Homo sapiens: one gene and its partners. The protein of the gene in region 3 purifies or fractionates together with the protein of the main gene of each other region. This does not show direct contact. Each region holds a gene or a part of one and is shown on either strand. Other genes may lie near its edges.

Region 1 (3,874 bases), on a different chromosome or scaffold from region 3:
CTGGCCCATCCAGATCTGTGCGGAATGCAGTCAGCTCTTTCTGTATGGGATGAGGTAATCCCCTGCTTTTGCTTGAGGGGACCTGTGATTTCTGTGCAGGGCCCGCTGGGGGTTCATTAGAGGCCTCCCTCCCTCTCTCCACTTTCAGATTTTGCAGGGAGCTTTGTCACCAGGCTTTTGAGAACCAGGGGCCCTGGGTACACATTTCATAGTTTGCTCTATGAAGCTTTTGTTCCTATCAGGGATTCTGAGAGTGTCACTTATTAAGATCTAAGCAGGTAATTTAGGAAGATTCTTTGCTCCAATAGTGGACGCACAACCATCAGTGAATGGTGGTCAATGAAAGTGGGCCCTGCCCACCCTAAACGTCCTGCACGCAGGCTGGGGCGGCCAGAGCCTTTGTCGCAGGCCACCTTCCATGTTACACGGCAGTTCCCTATTTTGAATAAGGGGATTGTCTTTGTCAAATAATAATCTGTTTGCTGGAGACAGCTCTTGTTTCTGAAACCTAATGCATGAAAAATACCGAAATGACAAAAGGGTAAGCTATAGTATGACATTTTTGTTTTTCTGTTTTTTGTTTTCTTTAGCTCCCATTTGAATTTGCAGAGGACTTGATGACTGCACTGTCTGCTTAATCTCCCTTTTCACTGTACTTTCCTTCCTATCTGACCCCTGGAACCTTTGGTGGTGGGAAGGGAGAGGCCCGTCCAGGCCCCGAGAGGAAAGCAGGTGGTCAGGGTGTGGGCCTCTGGCTTTGTTTCCTGGCCAGCCCCAGTGTGGGCTGCTGTTCCTTGGGCTGACTGGTGGTTAATGATTGAGGATCGGTGATCGGTGAGTGATGATAGGTGGCCGGTGATCGGTGGGGCAGTGAGGAGCTCCAGCCTCCGCTCTCTCATTCAGCCCTTGGGCAGCAACAGCCATGCCCTTGTTGGAAGTTTCCCACTGTGCCACCCGGGAGGGGAGAAGCAAGGACAGAGGCGAGGACGGCTGAGCGGGGAAGTGCCTATCTCAGAAATACTGTTTTTGACTCAGAGGACCAATGGTCCCTAAATCAAATTTTCGTCACCCAAAGAGGCAAAGGTAGAAAGCCAAGGGCTGGATGGGGGTCCCTGAGCCCTTTTCCACCTCTCAGTCCCACTCTGGGCTCTGAGAATACTGAAGGCTGCTGGTAGCTCAAAGCGGGTGAGTGTCTATTTTGTGCTAAGAGTGGAGGAACTGGAAGGAAGGACACACTCGAGATGTGGGAACCAGGCGTCTTCTCACTGAGTGACCCTGCCTCCTGCTGGGGCCTGTCCATGCTGAGCAGTGGCCAGGCGCCTGGCCAGCCGGCATCTGACATGTCTCTACACTGGAGGGCAAGTAAGACCTGAGCCAGAGGAATGTCACCATGGTGGGGGAGAGAGGTGGGGCGGATTCGGGATCCAAGTTCGGGCGAACAAAGACTGAGGGTCATTTCTTTCTAGCCCCTGTGAATGGCCCAAACCCCAGGATTTATGGCAGCTTCTGCTGTGTGGCTGTGCCAGTGGGGACAGAGCAGGGAGCCCAAGCCAGGCGCCAGCCGAGCTCCCTCTGGACCCAGCTGCTGTCCCTGCTGCTGCCCAGCTGTGGGGCGGTCCTCCATTCAAGCTCCTCTGCTCCCCGGGACTCTGGGGTCAGATGAGATCATGGGGGAAAGTGTTTTGGAAACCAAGCCATGATGCAAATGTGTTTCGTTTTAAGGAAATGGGAGAAAGGAACAAGGATTGTTGCAGTAGAGCCATGTGGGGAGAGCAAAGGTGAAATCCTTGTCTCCTGGCATCACGGGGTGGAGAGTGGAACGTCAGCTCTGGGTCATTTGGTGGCCAAGGAAAGATGGCGATAGTAGCTTCAAGGCACGGCCTGGGGTTGCCCGTCCACCCTGGAGGCAGTCTGGCAGGACAGGGTGTCCTCAGCTCCCTGCTGGGCCTACGTCCTTTTGGAGTTCTAGAGCTGCGTCTTAGGACAAGTGTGCCAAGCCTCCTGCTTTGAGTTTCTGTCCTGACCTTGACCTGGCTCACCTCCATGGGCAGCCTCCCATGCTTGGGCATCAGGGCTTGTCATAAGTCCGTGGTCACAGGGCTTGATTCCTCCTAGTGGGTGACTCTGAGGACGGCCAGGCCTCCCGCTGCAGGACCAGCGTGGTTCCCTCCATGGAAGGCTTTCAGAGTGTGGAGGGGATGCGGCTGTCTTGGGAGGCCCAGCCCTTTCTGTCAGCCGTGGAGGACACTGAGTCAGGTTAGGTCACGAGGAGGGGACCCCACAGTCATTTACATCCCGCAGAGGGAAGTGCCCAGAAGCCCGCAACAGTCTCCGCTAAGTGGGGTTCACGCCAGGTCCTCTGCTGTGAATGTGGAGGCTGTGGAGCCGAGGCCGCGAAATTTCTCACTTTTCAGGGATTCTGTTCAAGTTGTCCCAAAGGAGAAGCCCATCAAACAACCCAGTCTCTGTGCGAGCTCCCCCGGGGGCATTTACTACTCAGCCAGTGAGAGCCAGGTTTCCAGGGGAATAGAATTAAACAAGGTTCTGCTTTTTGCTGAAGGGAAAAACCGCTCCCTTAGGTGGGAGAATCCCCAGGGTTCTTTCTTCCTGGCCAGGGAGGGAGAAGGGGGTGACGTTTTATTGAGCATCGGCTAGGGCCAAGCTCTCAATTAGGCCCTTTCTTCTTTCTTCTTAGGGTATCTGTGAGATAGGTGCTGCTGTCCTGGGGAGGTAGATGCAGACAGATTAACTCTCAAGGTAAATGCTAATGAATAGAGGAGCCAGAATCCCAACCCAGGAATGTCTGATCTCGGAGTGGGCGGCTTCCCAGCTGTGGCTTTGCATACCGCTAGCGTAGCCACCCGGACCCTGATCCCCTGACCCTTGTCCTTGATCCTCCAGGAAATTCTCATATGTAACCTGGAATCCACTTTAAATGAACTCGGTAAATAATGTCTTGACTCTAGGCCAGTCATTACCTGGGACAGGTGAGGGGGAAGGGCAACCACCTGACTATGTCACTGTCAACAGTGCATCCTTGGGCTGAGGTTTTCATTTTACAGTGGGGTTCAGGCAGGGCTAATTGCTGACCCAGGACTGTGGCCTGGAGGGATTTCAGGGCCTTCCCATGGGCGGACTGACAGTAGAAGACAGCCCCTGTCAGTCTATCTGAAGAAATCAGTGCCAGATAACAATGGTACCCCGTGGCTGAATTCTGGCTGGGAGTGAAATGGTGATGGAGTGTTGGTCTCACCTCAGGTCAGCAGGGAAAACAGTTGGGAAAATGGTCAGCCCTCCTGAAATGCAGCAGGTGGTGATTTTTGTGTTTTGAGTCTTGGCACACCTTGCTGTTGAAGCAGTTGAACAAATAAAGGAATGGAAAAACAGGTGCTGACCCAAAGCTTGAGACAGCTGGTTGGTTGCCCTTCGTTGAAAACCACACGGCCAACCCAGAGTCTTCAGGTTTGGGGCGCAGTTAAGCTGTGGGGCACCCTGCGTAGGCTCACTGTGTTTCCAGAGGCTTTATGACTGCACACTGGGGCCGCCTGAGACCCAGGTTTATATGTGAATTTAGCAGACAAGTAAAAAGTGCTGAGTCACATTATAAATGCAAATTTGGAGGAGGATTTGAAATGCTTTCATTAAGACACCAAAGCAGGACACTTGTAATACAGCAGTGCCAGGAGAGGACAACCCTGCCATTCTTTGGGGACCTAGATAAAATGGCTCCACTGTCCCCTGCTGAGAGTGAGCAGGCCATCAGCATCGCGGTGGCCGGGGCTCAGCTGCCTGACGTTTCTTTGGCCCCTGTACTGTGTTGATTTCACACACTGGGCACAGCCATGCTGGCGGTGTCTTGAGAACACAGCCATGA
Region 2 (4,596 bases), on a different chromosome or scaffold from region 3:
CACCATAAAAGGGGATCAAAACCTCACTGAAAAGCTTCCATAGCAAAGGAAGACAGCAGAAGAGAATGGCGCTGCTGCAGCATATGTCAGCTCCTTAGGCGAGGATTTCGGCCACCCAGGCAAGCCACCAAAGAGTGACAACCGTAGAGTGTAGATAATGTCTAATGATCTTCGTGGCTCGCTGAAGCCATTTAAATCGGAATGCTGTGCCCTTTATCATCTGTTTCTTCTTCCTTCTTGATCTACTGGAAGATGGATGATCTTCTCCTAAATGAATAGCTTAGATAGTTAGTTGCCTGCTCAGGGGGTTGTATATATGGAAGTTTGTGTTTTGAATTTTATATGAGAGAAACGTCTAAGTTAAGCGCTGCTTAACAGGGTGATAGACTTTGAGAAAGTCACTTTCCCTCTCTGAGTTTTGAAAGAGATTGGTTTCCTTTATTAAAACAAAACAAAAAGACTTCTGAGGTTTGAGTGAAGGACTCTAGAGAACAGTGTGCATGTGAGATGTGGAAGTCTGCACAAGAGTCCCCACTTCCTGGCACAAAGTTCTTGTCTGCTGCTTTGAGATGTTTGGTCCCTTACTGTAACCAGCCCAAGGTTCAGTGATTCTCCTTTAAAACTAGAGCCCAGTCATAGACTAGAAGCCTTTTCCTCTATGTCCAGCTCAGCAAAGCTGAGACAGGGTGACACTGAAAGATAACAAAACTCTTACTCCAAACCTTGAAAGGCAGGAAAAAAAAAAATCAAAATTGTCTAATTTCTGACTCAGCCTTTTGATGCTAAGTATACCAGGAAAAGCTACACCAAGGGCAAGCCCCCCTCTCCCCTTCACTGGGAAGTGATCTTATACAAGTTCACAGTAAATCTATCCTAACTGAACTATACAGTAACCATACATGCTTCCAGCAAATGGGCACCCTACACTGGAGGGAGCACTTCTGCTGCTCTCAATTTCCTCCTTTGAACAGACGAGCTATAACATCATGGGTCTCATGAATGAGCAAGTTCCCTAAATTGTCTTTAAGCATGGAACTATAGGTGCAAACATTTTCACAATAGTTATATGTATTTGTATTTACATCTATATCTGTTTACAAATAATCGCATTGGTTTACACTTTCAGTTCACCAATAAATGAAATGAAATGTACCCTCACAAAATGTCTCCCCTCCTAGCTCACTCTATCCAGGACCTCTGAGTTCAAACAAAATCAAAACATATATACATGATACTTCAGGTTCTATAAATGAATACACAAACACGTATTATTACTATTAGTGGTAGTTGTAGTACCATTAGCATCATTGTCAAACTTTTTTCTCCATTGTGTGGTTGGCAGTATTATCTGGATTTGCTTTTTTTTTTTTTTTTTCTTGGAATTGGAGCCTTCTAATTGCCATCTTACCTTTTCTATCACATTCTCCTGGTCTCAAGAAAGCTGGTGGAGTGGGGGTTGTGGGGCTCAAGAGCCACTAGGGCAGTATAAAAAAATCCACAATTGCCTACTAAGTGTGTAGCACAGAGCCCCGTGATGTTTTCTCAGAAGAAATCAATGCCCAACATTCACATCCAGGTTGACTGGGCATACACTGATCCTGACTAAGACCATTTCTGCCCATATCTGACTGTCAGCCTTCTCCAAAAGAGGCGGTGCTTCCACAAAAGCCTTGATGAGATAGGTGTATCACTTCTCTTCTCCCATTGTTGGGCCCTCAGATTTACAGTACTGTACTTGACTTCTTAGTCTTCAAGAACCTCAATAGAACAACTGGAAATGGAAAGGTGGGCAAGGGGTATTCACTCTCCCTACCTGGCTACATACAGCTACCCCAAACACAAGTGGGGCTGTTTGCTTGATGCCTTGGCAGGGAACAGGGGTTATGAGAACCACCCCGCTATCCCGACCTCCCATTTCTGGCATTGTTCCCTGAATACAGTTGGTGCTTAGCAAATGTTGAATTTGAGTAAGGAACAGATTAACCTTATTGAAATGTTAGTTTTTCAAAGCTTACAGAGATATTGCTGCAGCTTAGGCATGACACACTGATATGTGTGTGGTGATGGTAGAGGGGTTATTTAAGGCCCAGGCTCAAGACACACGCACTGCACACCTTCCAGCAGCAAGTGCACATACAATCATTCTTGCCAACCAAGATGCCTCATGAACTGGTTTCTTCTTGGAAAATGCCAAGAAAGAGGAAGCAACCCCACTCTTAGAAAAATCTATTTTGGTTTGTTTGACTTGTCACATCCTTCCCTCAATGGAAGGGGACACGAAATGGAAAGGGACATGAAATGGAAAGGGACACACTAGGAAATGAGAAGTGTGGGCTGGGGAAAGAAATTCTGGGCAATGGATAGAGTAGCTTACCGGCCAGAGAGCAGCAGGGACAGGCGGTTGATGGGTGTCTCACCCTCCACAGCATAGGTCTGTTCAGTGGCCAGAGTTAAGACCTGCTCCTCGCAGCAGTGAACAATCTCCTTGTATGTCTGTAGGGGCACCTGCAAGGGCAGGCACAGCGTCTTGTAGAGGAGGTCAAACTCCTCAGGGAGGGTGTCCTCACGCAGGCGGTATACCAGGTGTGCCAGCTGGAGCAGGCAGACCACAGCCAGCAGGAAGCTCCAAAGAACAATGTCCAGGCCACAGGCACTGAACCAGCCCCACAGCACGCAGCACAGGTAACCTGCACTCAGGAAGCCAAAAAGATAGAAGCATCCATACACCCCACTGCCCCCCATGAAGCCCAGGAGTAAGAGGCAGTTGGCTAGGTGGTAGACAGCCCCTTCCACATCCTGCTTCCACCTAATGCACGCTGAACCCTGCAAGAGAAGCTGGCCCACTCTGCTGCTGTTGGCGCTCATCTTTGGGGCCTCTCAAAGCCTCACTGGGCTCTAATACTGTCCTCACATAGGAAATTCAGAAAATGAATGAATCCATCCGCTCAGGGGTCTTCTCACCTCCGGCTTCTCACTACCGACTCCACCTTTCCTAGAAGGAATGCTTCCGGTGGCTTTGGGAAGGAATGATGGAACATAGTACACTTCATGGAGAATTTAAAAACCTCTTTCTCTCTCTCTCTCTCTCTCCCCCTCTCCCCCCCTCTCTCCTCCCCACCACCCCCGCTGTCTCAGCAAGGCTCTGGCTCTCCCTGCAGAGCTCTGGCAAGCTTCCTTGGTTCCATGTTTCTTGGGAGTCTTCAAATTTGGTTCTTAGCAGAAAAACCTAAATAGTCCCAAGGGAAAGTAGCACTACAGGACTGAAAAGTCCAGCAGCGTGGGATGATGCGGCCACATCCTGCTCTCTGTTTTTCCCAAGCAGAATGAGGAGAGCCAGCATGGGAGGCACATTTGTGTTCCATTTGGAATGTGTTCTCTCTTGGCACCGGAAGAAAGGGTGACCCCAGATGGATACCATGTTTGGAATTGGAATCCAAGAGGTACTGGCAGTGAGAAAAAACAGGCCAGGCACAGGCAGCCTGGCAGAGCACTTAACATACCTCCCAGAGGACAAGATAAGACCTCAGGGTCAGAGAGACAGACAAGGAGAGAGAAAGGAAAAGTGAGCACAGAATTCACCTGAACACCTCAGGCAGGAAACTGTCCCGAGCTCCCTTTGGGGAGAGCCAGACAGTGCTTCTGAGTGAGGACACATCAGAGTAGGAAAGTATGGGACTATTATCAGAAAAAATCCTAACAGTGAAAGCTGGAAAACCCCCTGAAGGCCTTTATTAAGTCACACTGCAAATATCATTATGTATTTATTTGACATCCATTTAACAAAAGTAGCTATGTAAAGTGGCTTTTTGAATTCTAAGCTGGCTTTCCCCTGCATATATCTGGATCTGGTAATAGTAAACAAATAATAATACATTGCCCAGATCATCATCCCACCCACTCCGGTGCTTCCAAATTATAATTCCCACCTATTAAACACCCATGAAGTGCCAAACCTAGATTAGGCATTTTATACACTTATAAGTTAGTTGTGACAACAATCCTTCAAAATAAATATTATTCTCCTTCTAGATCTGGAAGAAACTGAGGCTCAGAGAGGTAACAAGCTCCCACAGATGGTCTAAGTGGCAGAGCCAGGATTTGAACCCAAGTCTGTCAAACTTAATACTCTGTCCCAAGGGGTTTGCCAGTAAGTGGAAGTACAGTACTAGATCCATGACTCCCAACTCCACACTTCTATGAAGTCTGACAATTTTCAAGGAACTTCTGGTTGAACCTAGGAATCTACTTTGGGCTGCCAAGAGATAAAGCTGGAGTATGCAAACATTAGGCTAAGAAATGTTAGTTGGGCACAGTGGCTTACGCCTATAATCGCAGCACTTTGGGAGGCTGAGGCGGGTGGATCACCTGAGTGAGGCTGGAGTTCGAGACCAGCCTGGCCAACATGGTGGAAACCCTGTCTCTACTAAAAGTATAAAAATTAGCTGGGCGTGGTGGCGGGCACCTGTAGTCTCAGCTACTGGGGAGGCTGAGGCACAAGAATCTCTTGAACCTGGGAGTCAGAGGCTGTGGTGAGCCAAAATTGTGCCACTGCATTCTAGCCTGGGTGACAGAGCAAGATTCTGTCAAAAAAAAAAA
Region 3 (3,874 bases):
CTTGGTGGAAGAGTCTGAGGTCTTTGAATCTGTGTCTGCTTACAAGAACCTTCAGATTAAGCCAGGCATCAAGATTTTCCGCTTTGTAGCCCCTCTCTACTACATAAACAAAGAATGCTTTAAATCTGCTTTATACAAACAAACTGTCAACCCAATCTTAATAAAGGTGGCTTGGAAGAAGGCAGCAAAGAGAAAGATCAAAGAAAAAGTAGTGACTCTTGGTGGAATCCAGGATGAAATGTCAGTGCAACTTTCCCATGATCCCTTGGAGCTGCATACTATAGTGATTGACTGCAGTGCAATTCAATTTTTAGATACAGCAGGGATCCACACACTGAAAGAAGTTCGCAGAGATTATGAAGCCATTGGAATCCAGGTTCTGCTGGCTCAGTGCAATCCCACTGTGAGGGATTCCCTAACCAACGGAGAATATTGCAAAAAGGAAGAAGAAAACCTTCTCTTCTATAGTGTGTATGAAGCGATGGCTTTTGCAGAAGTATCTAAAAATCAGAAAGGAGTATGTGTTCCCAATGGTCTGAGTCTTAGTAGTGATTAATTGAGAAGGTAGATAGAAGAATGTCTAGCCAATAGGTTAAAATTTCAAGTGTCCAACATTTCCCAGTTCCACAGTGGGAAATTTTGCACACTTGAAATTTTAACCAAGTGGCTAGATATTATTCCTCCTTTGAAGCTAATGGCATTTGTATATACACACTGCAGCAGAGCTTGTAGCTGGACAGAGTCAAAAAGAAGAAAATACGGTTTCAGGCTTTCTTGCAGATATGAAGTATTCTTGGAATGCAATAAGTATGTATTGAACTGTACTGTAAAGTAGCTCCAAAACTTAATTACTCTCCTGTTTTAGGGGTTATACATTTGGACTGTGCATTCTCCAAGAGATGAAGCGGTGAAGTTGGGATTTACATTGGAAGTGCTGTAGACTTCTTTATGTGGCTCAGTGGAGAGAGGGAAAGAATGTTGCACCTGCTCTAGTACCATAGGTCAAGAGGCTTCTGGATCACAAAGTCATAACTAGACAGGTTTGTTCTTGTAGTTTTCTATCCCCAGTCTTTGCTCCCCAGATGGCAGTAGTTTTTAGTAGGAAAGTGCCATTCCTGTCCTTAAGGCACAGTCTCATCAGAAGTCTAATACCTGGGCAGGTTTATAACATCCTGAGAGCCAGCCTGACATTAGACAGAATACCCTTTGTAATACATTGGAAATTTTTACTCATGCCTTTTTGTTTAGGATAAATAGGTAAGCACAAAGAGCTCTTCAAAATCAGAAAAAACAATAGGAGTCCTTCCTTGTCTTTTCTGTGATCTCTGTCCTTGTTTCTGAGACTTTCTCTACCATTAAGCTCTATTTTAGCTTTCAGTTATTCTAGTTTGTTTCCCATGGAATCTGTCCTAAACTGGTGTTTTTGTCAGTGACAGTCTTGCCAGTCAGCAATTTCTAACAGCATTTTAAATGAGTTTGATGTACAGTAAATATTGATGACAATGACAGCTTTTAACTCTTCAAGTCACCTAAAGCTATTATGCAGGAGGATTTAGAAGTCACATTCATAAAACCCAAGTGCTATGGGTGTATTATTCATGATAGCTGGCCCACAGGTCATGAATTGAGGAGGAATTTGCTTTCAAAAAGCAAGAATGTCCAACACTGAAAGTTTATAGTTTTATATTTGGACCTTGAAAGGTAAGAAAAAACCAGGTTCTCCAAAGTTAGGAATAGGGAACTAATTTATGAAACAGCCATCTTAAAAAAAAAAAAAGTAAACTGCAAAAGTACAAAATCATTTTTCAATCTGTTCCCAGTTTCTAAACAATTTTAAATATTTATGAGAAGCAAACCCTATGTGTAGGGCATCTGTTGGAGTGGGATGCTTTTAGACATATATTAAGTATGTACATGTTTAATATGTATATTTAAAATGCATATATATTTTATTATATCTATATTATCCTATATAGATATATGTAACTTAGCTTTATTGTTAGCTCCATAAGCTGCCAGTGTTGCTTTTCTGTTGGTAGAGCTCTCCCATTTGGTGACATGGAAAATACCTTTCCATTATCACAACAAAGCAGTTGCTCAGTAGAAAGTCTAGATTTCTGTCTTATAGGTGATTTCTGTCTTATAGGTGATTATAATCAAGTGTAGGCTTCCTGAATTTTGACATCCTTTTAGAACTTGGGTCTGGAATTCCAGAAATGTTAATTGCTGCTTGTATTTGTTCTTGTTTGTTTTTTAGCCAGTATTTGCCCTTTCTATCCAGCCTTATGAATAATAGCAGTAAAATCACAGTATCTTGGTCAGTCTTTATTTTTTTCCTTTTTTCTTTTTTAAGAGACAGTCATCCAGGCCAGAGTGCAGTTTGATGATAGCTTACTGAAGCTTCCCACTCCTGGGCTCAAGTTATCCTTCCATTTTGGCCTCCTGAGTAGCTAGACCATAGGTATGCATCACCACACCCTGCTAATTTTTTAAATTTTTTTCTAGAGAGAGGGTCTCACTGTGTTGCCCAGGCTGGTCTCAAACTCCAGGCTCAAGCAATCCTTCAGCCTCAGCCTCCCAGAGTGTTGGGATTACAGGCGTGAGCCACTGCACTTGGCCAAGTTATTTATTTTTAATCTCTCTTGCCCTTCTCCCAAGGCAGGCTTAAGTTGAGACTATTATAGGTGTCTAATAACCTGTGACAGAGTAATGAGTACATGCTTAAGATGTTATAATTAGCCAACACCAACACAGCAAAAAATATAATTCCAGCCAAAGATTCTGGAAAATCCCTCAGAAGGAGGGATAACAGGATTTGACCTTTACCAGCGATTTCTGTCCATATGTGGATGTAAACAGTTCTGGAACGTTATGCATGCAGTTAGCGAATCCTTGAATTATGTTCTGGTTTGTACTTGTCCCATCCATCCAAACAAGAGATTCTGCTTTTGGTAGCCATCTGTAGAAACATTTAAGATGTCACTAGAATTTACATTTCATCCTCTCTACTTGGGTTGAGGTTGCCTATACTTGCATATTGTTAAAATGTTTTGGTTGCTGATATTCAGAGGAATGAAACCTGGAACCAAAGCCTAATTTGCCGATAAAAAAACTGTTTTCGGCCAGGTGCAGTGGCTCATGCCTGTAATCCCAGCACGTTGGGAGGCCGAGGCGGGTGGATCACCTGAAGTCAGGAGTTCGAGACCATCCTGGCTAACACTGTGAAACCCCGTCTCTACTAAAAATACAAAAAATTAGCGGGGCATGGTGGCACGCGCCTGTAGTCCCAGCTACTCAGGAGGCTGAGGCAGGAGAATTACTTGAACCCGGGAGGCGGAGGTTGCAGTAAGCAGAGATTGTGCCACTGGACTCCAGCCTGGGTGACAGAGCGAGACTCCGTCTCAAACAAACAAACAAAAAACTGTTTTCATTTGCTCTCTTGACCAAAGGATAGGACTTTAGTTCTTTAAGCATTATTTTAAACACTATATTGATACAAAAATATCTTGCTTACTCTAAACTTTAGAGTCTAAATGAAGCTTTTTCTCAGTACAAGATTCTGAGTATCATAAAATGGTTATTTAATTGAAACGTAGTGTGGTATACTCTTGATGGTTAGAACTCTTACAGCCTTATTTATTTTTAAGTTTGTTACAGCCAAAGGGTTGGAGTGTGCCAGTGCACAGGTAGACTAAGGAAAACATTATAGAGGAGTGAAGAGAACAGACCATTGAAAAGACTATTATCTGACCAGCGGAGGCAGAAAAGAGAGGAACCCAGTTGAATAGGATCCAATCCCTGGTTAGCCTCTACACAATAATAGGGAGACAAGGATTAGGAGCCATACCTCCCAGAGCAAGGTATCTTTCTAGAG
Region 4 (3,874 bases), on a different chromosome or scaffold from region 3:
ATTCAGGGGAGCAGAAAAATGAGGAAATCCTGGAGGGGGCAGAAGAGTCAAGGGAGGCTGTGTGTGTGTGTGTGTGTGTGTGTATGTGTGTGTTTCAGGGGAGAAGGGAATATGTGTGTTTTTGCAGGAGAGGAGGGTGTGTGTGTGTGTGTGTGTGTTTTGCAGGAAAGGAGAAAACAGCAGGAACACTGATGAGAATAACCCAGCAGGGTGTGGCCTGGAGGGGCCTGGTTTATACTGGGGAACATCGGGTGGCTTAGGGAATGTCTGTGAGTGGGAAGGGGAACAGGATCTCAGGCACAGGTGGAGGCCCGGGCTCTGGGCAGGAAGAGACTGGAAAATGCAGACCAAAGTGCTCCCCTCACCTTTAATTCTCCTCTTCCCTTCTACTGACTGCCTGGGAGCCTCCCTCGATGCCATTCTTGTGTTCCATGCTCTGAGACTATGTCACAATCCAGACTTTCACAATACAGTCCCACTAGTTTCTAACTGTGCAATCCTCAGGGACAAAATCCCAGGCCAAGGCCTACAGAGTAAGAAGAGATCACACTAGCATGTGCCGTGTGTGGAAAAAGGGGGTAAAATAAGATAGTCACAGAGCAGGGACTTGTGTCTGTTTCTCCACCAGGCTCTCCTCTTCCATCCTGGGAAGTTACTTTCTGGCACCGGACAAGGGCCACAGAGTAAGAAGGGATCACACTAGTATGCACTGTGTATGGAAAAAGGGGGAAAAAAATAAGATAGTCACAGAGCAGGGGCTCGTATCTGTTCCTCCACCAGGCTCTCCTCTTCCATCCCCGGAAGAGTGACTTCCTGGCACCGGACATGGGCCAGGTGCACAGCAGGCGGGCAGGCAGGAGCCCTCATCGCGTGGAAAAAGCAGCATATCACAGCCGGGAGGGTCTAACTGCTAGCAGAGGCACAAAACGGGATGGGACACCATGCTGAGACCTGAACAGGGCCAAGCCTGACACAGGGGAAACCAGGGCAAAGGTTTCAAGGTAAAAACAAGTTTGGCTTGTTTGAGAAACAAAGAGAAAGGGTCAATGTGATCAGGTGTGGGCATTAGCAGGGAGGACACAGTGTTATTTGCTGAGGTGGGGGAGGTAGGTAAGGACCAGATCATTCAGAGCTTTCCAAACCAGGGCAAAGAGATACAATTTTATTCTAAATGCAACAGGAAGCCATTGAAAGGAACTGAACAGAAAAAGGACAATCTGTTTCCAAAAGATCAAGTTTTTTTTGTGTGCTTCTCCTAGAAATCACACTTTTCAATGCCATAAATAGCATTTATTACTCAAGCTGAAAACTCATAAAACCACCACCCATTTGATGGAACCAATGAAATCCTGAGAACTGACTGCCCAGTGGCCACCATGAGAGGTGGCAAAGATACAAGAGAGGCCACACCAGGGCATCTGCTCTCAGCTTGGAGGAGAAAGATATTCTAACCACCCTGCAACCAACCTCGTGGCACATGCAGAGGGGATATGGACCCGGAAGGGGAGGGCGAGAGATGAGCGGGACCCACTGAGGGATTTATCAGAGCAGGAACCTCCTCGGATTTCCATTTAAACAATCCTTCCCAGGGCAGTCATTTAAGATGCCTTTCACCAAACAACACATGCCTCCTCACACATACCCACTACACGTGCAAACAATCTCTTTCCGAACCAAAACCACACCGATGATTCAGCCCCTGCCAGGTGAGAGCAGCATCTGGGTCACAAACAAACTGAGGCCGTGAAGACTCCACCCCGACTCCCTCTATTTAAAAATTCCTCTACAAGAAACAGGAATGGCTGTTTCCTTCACCTCCTAGAAGGCAACATAGTAAACTGACAACAGATGGAAAGAAAGGCATATTTTTGTCCATTAACTTTCCAAGGGTTTTGGCTTTGTTCAGATATTTGCATCACAAATTCCCTTTGCTTTCTCCCTGGTTCCTCCAGAGAACTCTCCAGTGATCAAGGTCTCCAGCAAATGACAGCAACTCTGTATCAGTGGGATGCACTTTTGCTTTTAAAGCTACGCTAGGTTCTCATCAATACTCCTTGGATCTCAAGCCTCAGCAACAGACTCAGCACTGAAGACACTGGGTCGCAGCGCCCGCAGCCTGGACTGAAGCCCTGGCTTTGCTCCTTATCGTCTGTGGGACTTGCTGAGCAAGCTGCAAAATCTCCCTAAGACATACCGTCTTACCTTTAAAAGGGAGGACACAATCACCACTGACCCCATAGGGTTGTTTTGAAGATTAAAAGCACAGGCCGGGCGCAGTGGCTCACACCTGTAATCTTAGCACTTTGGGAGGCCGAGGCGAGTGGATCACTTGAGGTCAGGGGTTTGAGACCAACCTGACCAACATGGTGAAACCTCATCTCTAATGAAAATACAAAATTAGTCAGCCTGGTGGTGCATGCCTGTAATCCCAGCTACTTGGGAGGCTGAGGCAAGAGAATCGCTTGAACTTGGGAGGTGGAAGGTTGCAGTGAGCCGAGATTGCACCATTGCACTCCAGCCTGGGCAACAACAGTGAAACTCCATCTCCAAAAAAAAAAAAAAAAAAAAGAGAGATTAAAAGCACAAACGCAAAGAAGGTTTTATGTGCAAAAAGCACTTGGCACACTCCCTAGCACATACTGAATGTCCATAAACATTCAGCCAACGTCCACTGCTATCACTTTTCTTATTAGCTCACTAGGGATTGTTGGGGAGGGGAGGATTAAAGAATAGCATTTACTTGGGGACGATTAATGAATGGCATTTACTTAATTAACACTTTCTGAGGAAGACGAGGGAAAGAAGTCTGGATATATTTTGTGACCTGGCTAATTCTGGACACAGCTGCACAAAGCTTAATGAATAGGTCTGCCAAGAACAAACAATAGCAGGCAGTGAAAGAAACAAGCTGCAAACTGACACTCCCCAGGCCCTCAACTACAGAAGAGTTCAAGTGATTCCATTTCAGACAGGCTCCCGTGCCCACCAGCCAGGCAGAGAGGACCCTTAACTGAGCCTAGAGGCTGTTAATCACCCCATCCCTTCCCTTAGGTCCACATCCCTTATCCCTCGCCCCCTCCAGAGCCTCCCCAGCGTCAGTGCTGGTTCAGATGCCATCATTTTGGCATGGGCCTGCTAGAGACAGAATTCTACGGATGTAAGAAAGTAACTTCTTGCCATCATCCACAGAGCCGTCAGCTCTAAGCCAACAGGCAGCACAGGCCAGATTCTATTCAACAGCAAGAACGGAGCTGTCCCCACCCAATCTTCAGCTCACCCTCCCGGTCCCCATGTTGGAACTCAGTAAAAGGCACAGATACCCAGTTACTATATACACTCAAGACTATGTTCCCAAGAAAACTAGGTCCAAGGGTAATAGGAAAGGAAGCACACTTGATTAAAATGTTCTGTTTTTCAGAATTAAGGGCAATGAATTTCAACACCCATACTCTGTTCCTCTATCCCCAAGCCTTGGAAAGCACTGGTCTATGCAATGTAGGCAGCCATGTTCAAAGGAAAATAACAAAGAGCAAGTCCCTACAACAAAACCTGCTAGAAAGGACACTCTTGAGACTCCAGAAATGGCTCTGAGCCTGCTACTCAGTTTCCCATGTAGTCAGCTGCTGCCTCCGGTCACTTTTCTGATGCTTTGAGCCTTCAGACAATGAAATTCTTTCATAGAATAGACAAGGTATTACTTGCCACAGCTTCACTTTTAAGAGAATTTATAAGCTAAAGGGGATAAAAAATTATTCCATACATTTCCCTTTTTAACAGAAGTACACAGCCAAATTCAGGAAGGGAGGTGAATGAGGCGCAACCAAGTTCCTCCACTCCTAAGAACCGAGAAATGCACACACTGGTGTGCCACCCC
Region 5 (3,874 bases), on a different chromosome or scaffold from region 3:
TCTCTGACCTACACCTTTCCCTGCAAGCCCTTTTGAAGTGAGCATGCTCAGTTATCTGCACCGATGGCACAGAGAGGGAATCTAGAAGGTAAAAGTCACCTACATTACATTTGGGAATATTTGATCCCTTTTTTACGGCAGCAGTTTTCTAACTAGGTAAATGTTGTTTAAATTATGCTTTACAGCCAAAAATCACTGCTTAATGATGCTTACTGCAGTGTTTTTATAGTAGCAAAAAGTGGCAAACCTCAATATCCAATCACGGAGAACTGACTAAAACTGGTAGACTTTCATGCAACCGCTGAAAGGCACCTACGTGTTCAGTCTTTTAACAACCTAGGAAATTGCTCAGAACATTGTGTTCAGTACAAAACCTCAGGGTACAGGACTGAATGTTACAATATGGACTATCGCAGTTTTGCAAAGTAACAATAGACCAACTGCTCCCTCTCAATGTTCCCATGCCCAAAGCCCCAAAGCGCATGCCTGGAAAGGGGGCTGGGAACAAAAGACATCAGGTTCTGGGTAAGATGATGGGTCATTTACATGTTGGTCTTTATATTTTTTCTATTTTTGATGATAAACATGCAGTCCTTTATTCTTAGAAAAAAAGCATTATGGAAAAAATGAAGTCTCTGGGGTGGCAGGGAAAGGCTAGCGGGATAAGCAATTGGGGGTGATGGCAAATGGGTAAGCCACATAAATGACTGAGAGTCGACCGTATGGATGCCACCATGGCAGGGAGAGAAAAGAAAACACTGCCTCGGATTGCCTGAGCTCAGGAGTTCGAGACCAGCCTGGGCAACATGGTGAAACCCTGTCTCTACTAAAATACAAAAAATTAGCGGGGCGTGGTGGCACCCGCCTGTAGTCCCAGCAACTCAGGGGGCTGAGGCAGGAGAATAGCTTTAACCCGGGAGGCGGAGGTTGCAGTGGGTCGAGATCAGGCCACTGCACTCCAGCCTGGGCGACAGAGCGAGACTCCGTCTCTAAAAACAAAAGAAAAAAAAAAAAAAAGAAAGAAAACACCGCGTCTCCCTTCTCCCACCACTGAGAAGGTTAAGGTCAGGTGTCTGAGGGAAGGGCAGTGGGGTTGGGGGTTGCTGGGGGTTAAGGTGCCTCCAACGGGGAGAAAGCTGAGAGATTTCTAATCTGTGGCCTGCAGGGACTGCTTCTGGGAGGGTGTCTCTGAGCTCCCCTGGGCAGGAGCAGTAGCTGTGTGTAGCTAAAGAGTGAGGAAAAAGCTGGCCCCTACTGCAGGCTCTGTTTCCTCTTCCAGGTTTTTTGGCAACCCATAAAGCCAGGCATCTACCACTAGGCACCGGCGGCTTACGCTTATAATCCCAGCACTTTGGGAGGCCTAGGCCAGGGGATCGCTTTAGCCCAGAAATTCCAGACCAGACTGGGCAACATAGTGAGACCTCATCTCTACAAAATTAAAAACAATTAGCCAGTCATGACAGCTCACGCCTGTAGTCCCAGCTACTGGGGAGGGGGAAGTGGCAGAATTGCTTGAGACCAGGAGGTCAAAGCTGTAGTGAGCCGTGATCGCGCCACTGTACTTCAGTCTAGACGACAGAGCAAGATTCTGATTCAAAAAATAAAATTAAAAAACAAAACAAAAAACCAGGCATCTTATGGGATCCCAGAGGAAATGTCATGGGAACTGAGCCTCCCAATAGCTGATACTCTATTTTCCACCCGTCTAGACTTAGAAAGAAGGAATATGAGGTTTCCTTCCCTGAGCGCTGGAAACCCAAATCCACACCTGGGGACCATGTTGGTCCAGGGCCTCCTCTTAGCCTTGAAGCTCAGCTGAGACTCTAATGTAGGCCCTTTAGGCCCAGAGAAGTCACTGGGTGTGGCCAGGTCTGGTGAGCAGCGTCTTGCCCTGCCTGGGCTTTTCTCCTCTAACAGGGTCAGTGTTAAGGGACTCACAGAACAGTGGGGCAGGTGGAGGTGGGGTCTCCAGGCTGGCTTGGTACCTACCCAACCGCAGGATGGAGAAGAACAGCATCCAGAACAGACCCAAGAGTGGCGCAAAGATGGCCTGGGAGACGGCAGCCATGTGGATCTGCTCGTTCAGTTTGGTGGGTGCAAAGGAGTAGTACATGTTATAGCGATCCGTCAAGTGCTTCATGCACAGGTAGAGCAACCCTGGGGGACAAAGGTGGAAACTTACTCAGTGGCCCCTTCAAGTCTGGACCTTTGTGGCTCCAGTGTCTCCACAGGCCTGAGAAGCCAGATCCACGGCTGTCAGAGTCACAACAACCAAGGATGGGTTGGGGGAGCTCCGTGGTACTGACCTCCGGAGCCAGCAGCTTCCCTTGAGCCCCGAGAACTGACTGTTTCAGCTTGGTGAAGAGTCATTCTCTCATGCGTTCATTCAACAAACATCCCCCATCGGCAGCCATCCAACCTCAGCTGCCCTGTACCCCCAGCTTGGCCCTGGCCCTGACCCCTCCCTACCACAGGTCTCCCCATGCTCCAGGAGGTGGACTGATGTTGTGAGGCTCAATTCCTCCTCCCCATCTGCGGATGTGCAGCCCTTGGGCATGCCTTGGAGATGACTCACCAAAAGGCACAATGATGGGGCAAGTGATGCTGTACGCCATCACCACGCTGAACACGTTCATCATCCACGCATACTCACGCCCAAACTGGAAGTCTATGGCCTGGTTCTGGGGCAGAAGGCAGGTGTCACCCTGAGGTGGCCCAGTCCCCTTGGCTTGACTACTTCTGTGGCTCCTCATCAGCCTCCTGGCAGCTCAGGCCTGGAGGCAGCCTCCTTTCCAACCCTGTAGACCAAGGTGCCCCACCAACACCCATCCACACCGTCCCTCCCACCTCAACCCCCTTGGTGCTTCTAGCAGGCTCTATCCCTGACACCCTCCCAAAGGAAACTGAGGGCTGTGCTCAGCGGAGAGCCAGTCTGTACCTTTCTGATGTTGACTCTCTCTGGCTCTGATCTAGAGAAGAAGAGGCGGGTGCTGTAGCAGAAGAGTGACCCCAGACGCAGCAGCTCCATGCCTGTGCCAAGTAAAGCTGCCGTGATCACGTAGTTGACAAAGAAGGCGCCGTTGTCTGGCAGGAACACACACCTGGGCAGTGAGGGAGAGGGAAGGTGGCAACAGAAGCCACAGGGAGAGGGAGAGATGTTAAAAGGGAGGAGAGAGAGGAGAGCAGCAGAGGGAATGGGAATCGGAGTGGAGATACAGATACAGACAAGGAGAATAACATTTCCTCTCTTTCTTTTTCTCTGTCTCTCTCCTATAATATATATGTCCCCAACCCAATGAAGTTAACAAGCAGTCCCCTGAGCAGGGAGGGGCAGGGACCACATAAAGCATGGGTGTGTTAGGGGATACATGCATTGGCTTGATCCAAAGCAAGGGTGTCTGAGCCAGGTCCAAAGACTCGGGAGAATCCATGAGTGGGTTTCTGGGGGGTCTGTAAACTAGGATGGGAAAAAATAACATCTTTATTTTCACTAATCTCTAACTGAAATTTAGCATTTTCTTGCATTAAGAATGTGGGCAATACGGCAGGGCATGGTGGCTCACACCTGTAGTCCCAGCACTTTGGGAGGCCGAGGTGAGCAGATCACCTGAGGTCAGGAGTTTGAGACCAGCCCAGCCAACATGGTGAAACCCCATCTCTACTAAAAAATACCTTGAAGGATTCTGGTCCTTGCCTTATAGAGCAAGTTATGGAAGTTTGCATGTCATTTGCAACATATCTTTGAAAATTGGGATTCTCAACACTTGTTATCACTAAAACAAAAAAATCGAAATTGGCAGAATGTCCCACGTGGTCTGCATGTTGCTTTGTCAATGATCCCCCCTAGTTTAATATTCTTATTCCAATAAGTAAT

What was found.
Region 1: the proteins of SLC26A2 (region 3) and ACKR3 purify together in Homo sapiens (co-immunoprecipitation; one large-scale study listed by IntAct). This does not show direct contact.
Region 2: the proteins of SLC26A2 (region 3) and POPDC2 purify together in Homo sapiens (co-immunoprecipitation; one large-scale study listed by IntAct). This does not show direct contact.
Region 4: the proteins of SLC26A2 (region 3) and CYB5A purify together in Homo sapiens (affinity purification with mass spectrometry; one large-scale study listed by BioGRID and IntAct). This does not show direct contact.
Region 5: the proteins of SLC26A2 (region 3) and TMEM63C fractionate together in Homo sapiens (co-fractionation; one large-scale study listed by BioGRID). This does not show direct contact.

Annotation. Positions count from the first base shown.
Region 1 is NC_000002.12:236,576,312-236,580,185, forward strand, and holds part of ACKR3 (atypical chemokine receptor 3), read left to right. Parts: intron 1-2,695; exon of another isoform or gene 2,696-2,757; intron 2,758-3,874. UniProt on the Homo sapiens protein: Atypical chemokine receptor that controls chemokine levels and localization via high-affinity chemokine binding that is uncoupled from classic ligand-driven signal transduction cascades, resulting instead in chemokine sequestration, degradation, or transcytosis.
Region 2 is NC_000003.12:119,657,559-119,662,154, forward strand, and holds the start of POPDC2 (popeye domain-containing protein 2), read right to left. Parts: upstream 3,032-4,596; 5' UTR 2,866-3,031; coding exon 2,375-2,865; intron 1-2,374. UniProt on the Homo sapiens protein: Important for the maintenance of cardiac function.
Region 3 is NC_000005.10:149,981,258-149,985,131, forward strand, and holds part of SLC26A2 (sulfate transporter), read left to right. Parts: coding exon 1-556; 3' UTR 557-3,874. UniProt on the Homo sapiens protein: Sulfate transporter which mediates sulfate uptake into chondrocytes in order to maintain adequate sulfation of proteoglycans which is needed for cartilage development.
Region 4 is NC_000018.10:74,281,686-74,285,559, forward strand, and holds part of CYB5A (cytochrome b5), read right to left. Parts: intron 1-3,874.
Region 5 is NC_000014.9:77,247,574-77,251,447, reverse strand, and holds part of TMEM63C (osmosensitive cation channel TMEM63C), read right to left. Parts: intron 3,102-3,874; coding exon 2,939-3,101; intron 2,682-2,938; coding exon 2,576-2,681; intron 2,158-2,575; coding exon 1,990-2,157; intron 1-1,989.